2 linked regions of the Homo sapiens genome follow. The protein of the gene in region 1 interacts with the protein of each later gene in a pairwise test. Each region holds a gene or a part of one and is shown on either strand. Other genes may lie near its edges.

Evidence for each region.
Region 2: the proteins of MBL2 (region 1) and TRMU interact in binary tests that used the Homo sapiens proteins (3 or more experiments, as listed by UniProt).

Annotation. Positions count from the first base shown.
Region 1 is NC_000010.11:52,764,871-52,769,805, reverse strand, and holds the end of MBL2 (mannose-binding protein C precursor), read left to right. Parts: intron 1-490; coding exon 491-559; intron 560-1,295; coding exon 1,296-1,669; 3' UTR 1,670-4,426; downstream 4,427-4,935. UniProt on the Homo sapiens protein: Calcium-dependent lectin involved in innate immune defense. Binds mannose, fucose and N-acetylglucosamine on different microorganisms and activates the lectin complement pathway.
Region 2 is NC_000022.11:46,331,833-46,338,725, forward strand, and holds the start of TRMU (mitochondrial tRNA-specific 2-thiouridylase 1), read left to right. Parts: upstream 1-3,881; 5' UTR 3,882-3,932; coding exon 3,933-4,014; intron 4,015-5,946; coding exon 5,947-6,112; intron 6,113-6,893. UniProt on the Homo sapiens protein: Catalyzes the 2-thiolation of uridine at the wobble position (U34) of mitochondrial tRNA(Lys), tRNA(Glu) and tRNA(Gln).

The DNA.
Region 1 (4,935 bases):
AAATCTTGGTTTCCTGACTAACAGAACAAACCTGGAAAAAACAAAAACAAAACAAAAGACATCAAAAGCAAAACCTCTCCAAAGACAAAAACTCTGCAATCTTTTTCGTCACTCTTCACCAGGTCATAATAGAGTAACGCCTCAAGAGATTTCTTTTTAGTTTTGATAGAACAATTTATTTGAAAAAAAAATCTGTGAAGAACCTGGCATATGGATTGCTAGGTAATCAGGGAGTATATGTGTGCATGTGATATGTATGCGTACTTTGGGATACAGTAAACAGACAAAGAGGGACATTTGGGGTTGGATGGAAATAGCGATTTTTCATTCTTTGGGCTTTTCAGTATTTTTTATTTTCCTTCAAAGTGTAAACATCAATGTAAAATAAGCTTTTTTTTTCAGTTTGAAAAAGATACTCCACTCCCTTGTATATGCACAGTTCTGAGGCTCCTTCTCAACAATGCTTCTTTACTTTGTTCTAATTTTCTAGATGGTGATAGTAGCCTGGCTGCCTCAGAAAGAAAAGCTCTGCAAACAGAAATGGCACGTATCAAAAAGTGTAAGCTTTTTCTCTTACTCTCCAGGCAGCTTGAAGTTTGGGAAAAATAGAATGCAACAAATATTTGTTGAATGCATATAATTTTCTGTACCCTGCTAGGCATTTCTCATATTCTTACCTCATGAAATTCTCACAACATTTTGGTAGAAATGGAGGCAAAGGGAAGTTAAATTACTTGTTCAAATGCACAGAGCTAATAAATGGCAGGGGTGGTTTATAGATGGAAGTCAGTCTGACTCGAGAGACCCTAATCCTTTACCGTCTGATATTGCTCACTGAAAATGGGACTTATATCCCTTTGTTGCACTGGTATTGAGACCTGGCCGTGGGGTCTAACCTGCCTGGGGCAAATATTTTCAGACATTTTTTGTTTGGTCTCAAGTTAACAATTTAGAATTCAGAAGTCCAAATTATATGTCTTTTAGAATTCTGATCTGAAAGCACAGAGAGGCCTTTGTACCAGTCTGTCTGTTCACATTTGGGTTGCCATATTTAACAAATAAAAAGACAAAGCACCAGTTAAATTGGATTTCAGCTGAAAAACATTTTTAGTATAAGTGTGTCTGAAAAATTATATGGGAGATATACTAAAATATTCATTGTTTGTCTGAAATTCAAATTTAACTGGACATACTATATTTTATCCGGCAACTGTACTCTAGAAGACTTTTTCTTGAGAAATACCTTGAGTTGGGCTTAAGGATGAGTCAGTTTCACCCACTTTTTCACATTTTAGGGCTCACCTTCTCTCTGGGCAAACAAGTTGGGAACAAGTTCTTCCTGACCAATGGTGAAATAATGACCTTTGAAAAAGTGAAGGCCTTGTGTGTCAAGTTCCAGGCCTCTGTGGCCACCCCCAGGAATGCTGCAGAGAATGGAGCCATTCAGAATCTCATCAAGGAGGAAGCCTTCCTGGGCATCACTGATGAGAAGACAGAAGGGCAGTTTGTGGATCTGACAGGAAATAGACTGACCTACACAAACTGGAACGAGGGTGAACCCAACAATGCTGGTTCTGATGAAGATTGTGTATTGCTACTGAAAAATGGCCAGTGGAATGACGTCCCCTGCTCCACCTCCCATCTGGCCGTCTGTGAGTTCCCTATCTGAAGGGTCATATCACTCAGGCCCTCCTTGTCTTTTTACTGCAACCCACAGGCCCACAGTATGCTTGAAAAGATAAATTATATCAATTTCCTCATATCCAGTATTGTTCCTTTTGTGGGCAATCACTAAAAATGATCACTAACAGCACCAACAAAGCAATAATAGTAGTAGTAGTAGTTAGCAGCAGCAGTAGTAGTCATGCTAATTATATAATATTTTTAATATATACTATGAGGCCCTATCTTTTGCATCCTACATTAATTATCTAGTTTAATTAATCTGTAATGCTTTCGATAGTGTTAACTTGCTGCAGTATGAAAATAAGACGGATTTATTTTTCCATTTACAACAAACACCTGTGCTCTGTTGAGCCTTCCTTTCTGTTTGGGTAGAGGGCTCCCCTAATGACATCACCACAGTTTAATACCACAGCTTTTTACCAAGTTTCAGGTATTAAGAAAATCTATTTTGTAACTTTCTCTATGAACTCTGTTTTCTTTCTAATGAGATATTAAACCATGTAAAGAACATAAATAACAAATCTCAAGCAAACAGCTTCACAAATTCTCACACACATACATACCTATATACTCACTTTCTAGATTAAGATATGGGACATTTTTGACTCCCTAGAAGCCCCGTTATAACTCCTCCTAGTACTAACTCCTAGGAAAATACTATTCTGACCTCCATGACTGCACAGTAATTTCGTCTGTTTATAAACATTGTATAGTTGGAATCATATTGTGTGTAATGTTGTATGTCTTGTTTACTCAGAATTAAGTCTGTGAGATTCATTCATGTCATGTGTACAAAAGTTTCATCCTTTTCATTGCCATGTAGGGTTCCCTTATATTAATATTCCTCAGTTCATCCATTCTATTGTTAATAGGCACTTAAGTGGCTTCCAATTTTTGGCCATGAGGAAGAGAACCCACGAACATTCCTGGACTTGTCTTTTGGTGGACATGGTGCACTAATTTCACTACCTATCCAGGAGTGGAACTGGTAGAGGATGAGGAAAGCATGTATTCAGCTTTAGTAGATATTACCAGTTTTCCTAAGTGATTGTATGAATTTATGCTCCTACCGGCAATGTGTGGCAGTCCTAGATGCTCTATGTGCTTGTAAAAAGTCAATGTTTTCAGTTCTCTTGATTTTCATTATTCCTGTGGATGTAAAGTGATATTTCCCCATGGTTTTAATCTGTATTTCCCCAACATGTAATAAGGTTGAACACTTTTTTATATGCTTATTGGGCACTTGGGTATCTTCTTTTGTGAAGTACCCGTTCACATTTTTGTATTTTGTTTAAATTAGTTAGCCAATATTTTTCTTACTGATTTTTAAGTTATTTTTACATTCTGAATATGTCCTTTTTAATGTGTATTACAAATATTTTGCTAGTTTTTGACTTGCTCCTAATGTTGAATTTTGATGAACAAAATTTCCTAATTTTGAGAAAGTCTTATTTATTCATATTTTCTTTCAAAATTAGTGCTTTTTGTGTCATGTTTAAGAAATTTTTGCCCATCCCAAAATCATAAGATATTTTTCATGATTTTGAAACCATGAAGAGATTTTTCATGATTTTGAAATCATGAAGATATTTTTCCATTTTTTTCTAATAGTTTTATTAATAAACATTCTATCTATTCCTGGTAGAATAGATATCCACTTGAGACAGCACTATGTAGGAAAGACCATTTTTCCTCCACTGAACTAGGGTGGTGCATTTTTGTAAGTTAGGTAACTGTATGTGTGTGTGTCTGTTTCTGGGCTGTCTATTCTAGTCTATTTGTTGATGCTTGTGTCAAACAGTACACTATCTTAATTATTGTACATTTATAGTTGTAACTATAGTCCAGCTTTGTTCTTCTTAAAGTCAAGATTTCCATATAAATATTAGAAACAGCTTCTCAATTTCTACAAAATCCTGATGAGGTTTCTACTGGGACCACATTGAGTCTATCAATCAACTTATGCAGAACTGGCAACTTACTACTGAATCTCTAATCAATGTTCATCATGTATCGCTTCATGTAACTAGAATTTCTTTAACTTAATTGCTATGTTTTGACATTTTTAGTTTAAAAACCTTGTATATCTTGTTTTGGTGGTTTTAGTGATTTTAATAATATATTTTAAATATTTTTTCTTTTCTATTGTTGTACACAGAAATACAGTTAAGTTTTGTGTGTAGTCTTACGATGTTTAGTAAACTCAATAAGTTTATTTCTTAAATCTAGTAATTTGTAGATTCCTCTGGATTTTGTATATGCATAGTCATGTAAGCTGAAAATATGGCAATACTTGCTTCTTCCCAATTGCTTTACCTTTTTTCTTACCTTATTGCACTGGTTAGCAACCCCAATACAGAGACCACCAGATCAGGTATAGACTCCTGAAAGACAATATAATGAAGTGCTCCAGTCAGGCCTATCTAAACTGGATTCACAGCTCTGTCACTTAATTGCTACATGATCTAGAGCCAGTTACTTTGTGTTTCAGCCATGTATTTGCAGCTGAGAGAAAATAATCATTCTTATTTCATGAAAATTGTGGGGATGATGAAATAAGTTAACACCTTTAAAGTGTGTAGTAAAGTATCAGGATACTATATTTTAGGTCTTAATACACACAGTTATGCCGCTAGATACATGCTTTTTAATGAGATAATGTGATATTATACATAACACATATCGATTTTTAAAAATTAAATCAACCTTGCTTTGATGGAATAAACTCCATTTAGTCACATTTTATCTTGTGTATGTATTATTGGAGTGGACTTGTTAATAGTTTGTTTAGAACGTTTGCACCTATGTTCATGAGAGATACTAGCTTTTTTTCCCCTCCTTAATGCACTTGCTATGGTTTGGGGTCAATGTTATGTAAGCCTCATTAAAATGAGCTGTGATGTGCTCTCATGCTCCTTATTATCTAAAATAATTTGTGTAAAATTATACTTTAATGTTAGATAAATTCACCAGTGAAGCCATCTTGGAATGGTGTTTTCTGTTGGGAAATGATTTTAATTTCAGATTTAATTTCCTCATGATCTAAACCTATTCATGTTTTCTGTCTTTTGTTCGGTTTCAGTGAGTTATATTTTTCAATGAATGTGTCAATTTCCTCTGAATATATATGTATTGGCATAAAATTGTTACAATATCTTTGTATTTCTTTTCAATATAAGTAGGATCTATAGCAATGTCTATGTATCTGTTATGATTATTTGCATTTTATCTTTATTTTATTGTATTTTT
Region 2 (6,893 bases), on another chromosome or scaffold:
GTAGTGACACCGGAGGGTCCTCAGGGAACCTCTGGTCTGGCCCTCATTTCCCAGGGGTAGAAAAGGAAATCTGAAATTGGATTAAACCATGCAGCAAATATTTACTGAGGCTCTGCTATGGGTCAGGCTGTTTTCTGCTGGGTGCAGCGGGGTGCAGCGCTCAGGTACCCCTTCCCTCTTAGGGCTTCCCACTGGGTAGAGGAGGGAGATGTTCAGCTCCCAGCTCATCTGTAACCAAGCTGTGCCTCAGTTGTCTCCATTCAGGCCCTGGGGGTGAGCCCAGCCTTTGGCCTGTGGCCCCAATCCCGCTGCTGGGGCTCCTCCCCCCTGTGCCCTTCCCCTCCCCGGTGCGGCTTCAGTGCAGCCAGGCTCTCCTTGGTACCCAGGCCAGACAGAGTGATCTGACTTTAACTCTCTACAGACAGACAGGAAGAGGGCCCAGGAGCAGGAGCTGGACAGAGCAGAGCTGCTCCTGTCCTGAGGCTCCAGGCCCATTCCTTTCTGTCTGGGTTTCTCCACTGGGCTCTTCCTGCCGAAGCCACCCAGTCTGAGCTCCCCCACTCCCTCTCCTGGTACACAGGCCCTTGGTTCACCCCTCAGAGGGCTCCGGGTGGGAAGATGCACAGTTAGTTGGAGACTGAAGGGCTCCGTGGCCCCAGGAGGGCCAGCCCCTTTCTCCATAGGATGGCACCGAACACCTCAGCTGCCACTGGAGGGCCACCCTCCCAGGTCCAAGACGTCCAACTTCATGTGATTTTTTACCACATTTCATTAATTTTGTGGAGCAAATGTCTTCCCATTTTACATCTCTGAAATCCACGTCTCTGACATTGCTGTTGGCAGGCGGCACCTGGGATGTCGTCATCCTGGCCATAACTAGCCTGTAGTGGACCTGGGTGATACACAGGGGCCTCTTGGAGCTACGGAGTACCTAAAATACCATATAGTTAACCAAAAAGTAGCAGAAAATATGTGAGCATGGATCTCAGCCATTTTGCGGGTTGGCTGCAACTGGGACTTAACCTGCCATAACCTTAGATCAGCCTGCCACACCCAAGGAGGGCCTGCCCCCAGACCCAGACTCAAGTTTAGACACAGCCTAAACGTGTACCTCTAAATCTGCACAAACTCAGCTGCCCAGATACTGGATTTCCTTATCTCTTCCGGGAAATGCAAGATGAAATTGCCCTCCTGTTGGGTATTTTCCTGATCCTTTATTCTGAAAAAGTGGTCATCCTTTTCCCCACAGGCCCTGTGACCTCCCTCCTGTCTTGCAGCTCCTCCTGGCACCAGTCCCCAGGGCTCTCCTGTTGGTAGTTCCTGCTTTTCTTCTTGGAAATTCCTCGTGGACCTCGAGATCTTTACCCTAAAATAGTTCTGTTGAATTTCACCCTGGCAATGTAAATTGATAGCTTATCTTCACAGATGCCAGACAATGGACAACTCACCATCAGTCCTCTGCTCACCTGAGACAAATGCATGTCTGATTGCTTCCTCTGCCCTATTGTTTATGTGAAAATGCAGATTCACTGAGCCAGACTAAGGCATCAGTGACTGTTCCTCTACCTGCCTCTCACATGGAGATTGTGTATTCAGTGAAAGGCTGATCAAAGACCCAAAGGAATGCAACAGTTTATCTCTTATCTACCTATGACCTGCGAGCTGCCCACCACCCCCAGTTGTTGCGCCTTTCCAGACAGAACCAGTGTACATCTTACACGTATTAATTGATGTCCTGTGTCTCCCTAATATGTATCAAAGCAAGCTGTGCCTCGACCACCTTGGGCACATATCCTCAGGACATCATCCTGAGGCTGTGTCACTGGCATGTCCTTAACCTTGGCAAAATAAACTTTCTAAATTGAAACCTGTCTCAGGTACTTTGGGTTCATACCACAAGGGAGGGTTCTCATGCACATGTGCCTAATAATAACAACTATCACAAAAGACTGCAAAAACCACAACTTTACACAAAGGCTATCGTAACCTTCCTCAAAAAAAAAAAAAAAACAAAAAACTTCTGTTGCAAGGACATCTGCCCAGCAACTGCTTGTCCAACCCTGGAGTGCTGTCACCCTTGTTATTGATCTTTGTAGCCAAAGAATTATCTCAAAACAATGATGTGATCCTCATTTTCCCTTTAAAAACCTTTGTCTTCCTAGGCCGGGCACTGTGGCTCACGCGTGTAATCCCAGCACTTTGGGAGGCCGAGGCGGGCGGATCACAAGGTCAGGAGATCAAGACCATCCTGGCCAACATGGTGAAATGCCGTCTCTACTAAAAATACAAAAATTAGCTGGGTGTGGTGGCATGTGCCTGTAATCCCAGCTACTCCGGAGGCTGAGGCAGGAGAATCGCTTAAACCCGGGAGGCGGAGGTTGCAGTGAGCTAAGATCACGCCACTGCACTCCAGCCTAGTGACCAAGTGAGACTGTCTCAAAAAAATAAATAAATAAAATAAAAACCTTTGTCTTCCTTTACTTCCCTGAATACCCACATAGCTTATTGTGGCATGCATATTCCCATTGCAATGCCCTATTCACAAATGAACATCTTTTTCGTTCAGAGTCTCCCTGTGCTTTAGGTAGACCTTGTCTAGATGCTAACTCGTAGAGAAGAACTCAGCTTGAATATCACCCCTGGGGGATGACCTCCATTCTCTCCTCCTTCCTTTATTCAGCGAGGTTATGAAGCACCTGCCCTGGGCCAGGGGCTTTTCTGGGCATGGAGTAGGAGTGGACAGAACACAAAACCCCTGTCCAACACACCTCACAGACATTAAGGATTGAGTGCTGAGTATGCTTGGAGTCAAACTGTAAAAGATTTGAAGATATTTATTCATGTCATAGTCCCAGGAGATCCTGAGAACACGTGCTCAAACTGGTGGTGCTACAGCTTTTGGTTTCGTACGTTTTAGGGAGACATAAGCCATAAATCAATACATGTAAGATGTAACATTGGTTCCGGAAAGGTGGGACAACTCGAAGGTGGGGTGGGGCTTCCAGGTCATAGGTGGATTCAAAGATTTTCTGGGCCGGGGGCAGTGACTCACACCTGTAATCCCGCCACTTTGGGAGGCTGAGGTGGGCGGATCCCTTGAGGTCAGGAGTGAGAGACCAGCCTGGCAAATACGGTGAAACCCCGTCTCTACTAAAAATACAAAAATTAGCTGGGCTTGGTGGCGGGCGCCTGTAATCGCAGCTACTAGGGAGGCTGAGGCAGGAGAATCGCTTGAATCTTGGAGGTGAAGGTTGCAGTGAGCCGAGGTCGCGCCCACTACACTCCAGCCTGCGACAGAGCAAAACTCCATCTCAAAAAAATTTAATTAATTAAAAATTAAATTAAATTAAAATACTGTAAAATACTTCGATATCTTTCAGGGCCTGCCATCTGTCATGTCGGTATCCTATTGCTACGGAGAGTCCGCCTAGACAGTCTTAAGTCTGTTTTGACGTTAATGCTGGTCCGAATTCCAAAGGGAGGAGGAGGGTCTAGTGAGGCGGGTCCCACCCGGCCTTTCCCATCAGAGCCCGAACTCGCGGTTCAGGTTCCCTCTAGGACGCCCTTGGCCGAGAGGAGGCCTCCAATGGCTGGCTGGGGGGCTTAGAATTTTATTTTTGGTTTACAGCGCAGAAGAAGAGCAGTGAGGCCGGGGCGCGGGTGGGGAGGGCAAGGCGGCGGCTCAAAAAAAAAGCCAGCCCCTCGCGGCCCGACAGAGTCTCGGCGCCCCGCGGGTCGGTGGAGCCTCAGGGGTGAGCGCAGGCCGGAGACAGGGGAACCCGCCGCGGGACAGGGGAAGGCCGGACGGAACGCGGGTAAGCTGCCGCAGCTTCCGGCCGGGCCACTAGCGCGGACCCTACGGCCGGGGCGGGACTTCCGGCAAGGCGCGGAAGCGGCGGTAGCTGCAGCTGGCGAAGTTGGGCGACTGGCGGATGCAGGCCTTGCGGCACGTCGTGTGCGCCCTGTCCGGCGGCGTGGACAGCGCCGTGGCCGCGCTGCTGCTGAGGCGGAGAGGTGAGGCGTCCGAGGCTCCCGCCCCCCGCCGAGCGAATGTGTCCCCGGAAACCTGTCCCCGTCCGTCGTGGCGTTGTGCACGTCTCCTCCCTCCCTGGGCCGCTGGTTGCGCGCGGGTCGGCAGGAGGATACCCCGTCCTCTGACTTTGGTTCGGAGGCTCCTCGCCCTCCACCTGTGTAGTCGGAGGTGTGCGCGACTGCAGCTCCGACTACCTGGGAGCAGTTCCGCGCCCCTCTCCACCCACGCGCGCCCACCCACAGTGAGAAGCCGGCGGGCCGGGGTGGGGTGGGGAGGGAAGGGTTTCTCACGGATCTGCGGCGTCCACATTCACCTGTGAGACCGTGGACACTGGTGAGGGGAGCTGGGATCGCCGGGCCGGGGGCCTGACCTCTGCACACGCTGTGGCCGCCCGGTGGGAGGTCCTTGTCCTCCCCACTCAGCAGACTGGACAACTGCCGCGCGGCGGGTCTGCTTGTTCAGCGTCTCCTGTGTTCTCCGCTCGCTGGAGGACAAAGTTTTCTCCAGGAGCATTTGCATTTCTTCCGGCATCTAAACGGAGCCCCACGGGTGCTTAGCATTCCTCGGGCCCGGCGCTGAAATGAGCACTTGTTTAACTTCACCTGTGTGGCTCCCCGCGGGAGGCCTCATTCACAGAGTCACGTTTGTGGAGCTCTGCTTTGCGCCATCTTTGGCTCCTGACCTTGGGCAAGTGAATTAAGCCGTCCCCTGTAAAATTCGGCTAACACCTGCCTCACGGGGTGACTGGAGGGATTAGATGACATAGTACATACTGATGAGTACGTGCTCAGCACATACGAGGTACGCAGAAAACAGTAGTGGCTATTAGTTTATATTGTTAATAACCATAGCTATTATGGTAGGTACAGTAAGTGCCAAAGAGAAGGGTAGGCGGACCATAAGCAGAAATAGTTGTGAGGAAGGGAGAGTGGAGGAAAGCATCCTAGAGATGGAGGTGCTCAGCTGAGTCGAAAGAAGAGTAGGATGTCACTAAGCAGAGACTTGGAGGTGGAGGCGGCCCTCCCGGCACAGTCAGCAGTGCAAGCAGAATCACAGAGGCCTGCAAGTGTGGGCTGGTTCTGGCCAGATGGAGATGGAAGGAGAGGAGCCTGGAGCACGTTTAGCCCTGATTATGGAAGATGCTATACCAGGGGCTTTAGACTGTTAGGTAGACATTAGTCTGGTTGATCTGGGATAGGGGTGGTCTTTCGCGTGTGGTGGTGTAGTTTTGACAAAGCTTTGTCATCAAATTTCTGTTGTTTTGGGTACTATATGAAGCCTTCTTCAGCAGTCATTTGCCCTGTCTTTCATTACATTCAGCCTACCTAAACGAACCAGCTTTCTCATACAGGGTCTGCACCTGTGTAGTTTGCTAAGGTGGTGTAGGGCTAAAGTTGGCCTTTCCAATATTTGGGTGAATATTTTGTTACAATCGAAAAGGTAGAAAATAGGTCATAAACTAGGTGGTACAGCTCTTACAAAATATCGAAAATTTTAATTATCTTTATATCTGATCACTTAGAATCTAAGTCTTAGATAGTAACTAGAAATAACTTTTGAAAAGAGTTTCCTTTTTTGATAACTGAATGGTGCTTTGAAAAATTTTGTTGAGTTTCGACTATTCCTTCGTGTATTCCACACACACTGGCTGATCCCCTCCTGCTAGGTATTGTGCTGATACATAGATGGGGACACAAAGATGAGAAAATACCACCTCGTTAATCTTGGGGACTCAGGCACCAAGATGGAAACCGGATCCCTGAAGCCACATGGCAAAGCAGGGACTGCCCGGCAGGCCAGGCACAGAGGCACAGGAGCACAGCGTGTGGGGAACTTCTCAGAGCTCAGAAATCACTGCCGTTTTACCGAAGGTTGATTTATGTATTCTCTTTAATTGACCTTCCCGCCCGCAGGTTACCAGGTGACAGGGGTGTTTATGAAGAACTGGGACTCACTGGATGAACATGGGGTCTGTACTGCCGACAAAGACTGTGAAGATGCTTACAGAGTTTGCCAGATCTTAGACATCCCTTTCCATCAAGTGTCCTACGTAAAGGAGTATTGGAATGATGTGTTCAGGTGAGTGCGGGTCACAGCACAAAGGAAGCTTCCTCACACTGTGGATCCTTGCAGTGGAAGGATCCGGTAACCAGCCAGACCGACGCCTGTGCTGCAGCCCAGCGCTCTCCCTCCACGGTGGTGCTGAAGACTGCAAGAGGCCTCAGCCACCCTCGGGGCTCTGTGTTAGAGGCGAGGCCTGGACCCCACAGCACACCCAGCTCTCTCACTCCTGTCATTTTGCCACTTGCCTGAAGTCTCTTTAATGCTTTCTTGGACCTTGAGCTGTTTCTGTTGCCCAGTTAGGATAGGGGAGCTAAGGCTGAGGGCTCCCCTGGAAGGTGAGCACCAATGCCTGTGTGCTATGTGGGTCAGCGATTAGGGGATTTCTGAGAAAGAGGTGATACATGGCCTGTGCCTCTGAAAACAAGAAACAAACAAAAACTTTTCTAAAATCCAATATAATCTCAATAATTAAGTGCTGTGTGCTAGGCGTGTGCCACATCTAGGAACATTAAGATGTCTTCACTGTGACCTGGCTCTGTAGGAGTTTGCGGTCTAGTTGGGAGGACATTATCTTCACAAGAGGTGACAGTGATGCGTGGCACGCAGGAAGTACCAGTGATGCTATCAGTCACTGAACCCAGAGGAGGGAGAAACTTGCAGTGTGGAGTAATCAAGAAGGCTTCACCGGAGAGGAGGGGTTGCAAACAAAGTTGTAGAGAAGGGACTCCAAATGGGGTAACGAGAGCAGCGTGAAGGGGAGAAGAAATGCTGATTGTGTATTTCAGGACCGTTGTAA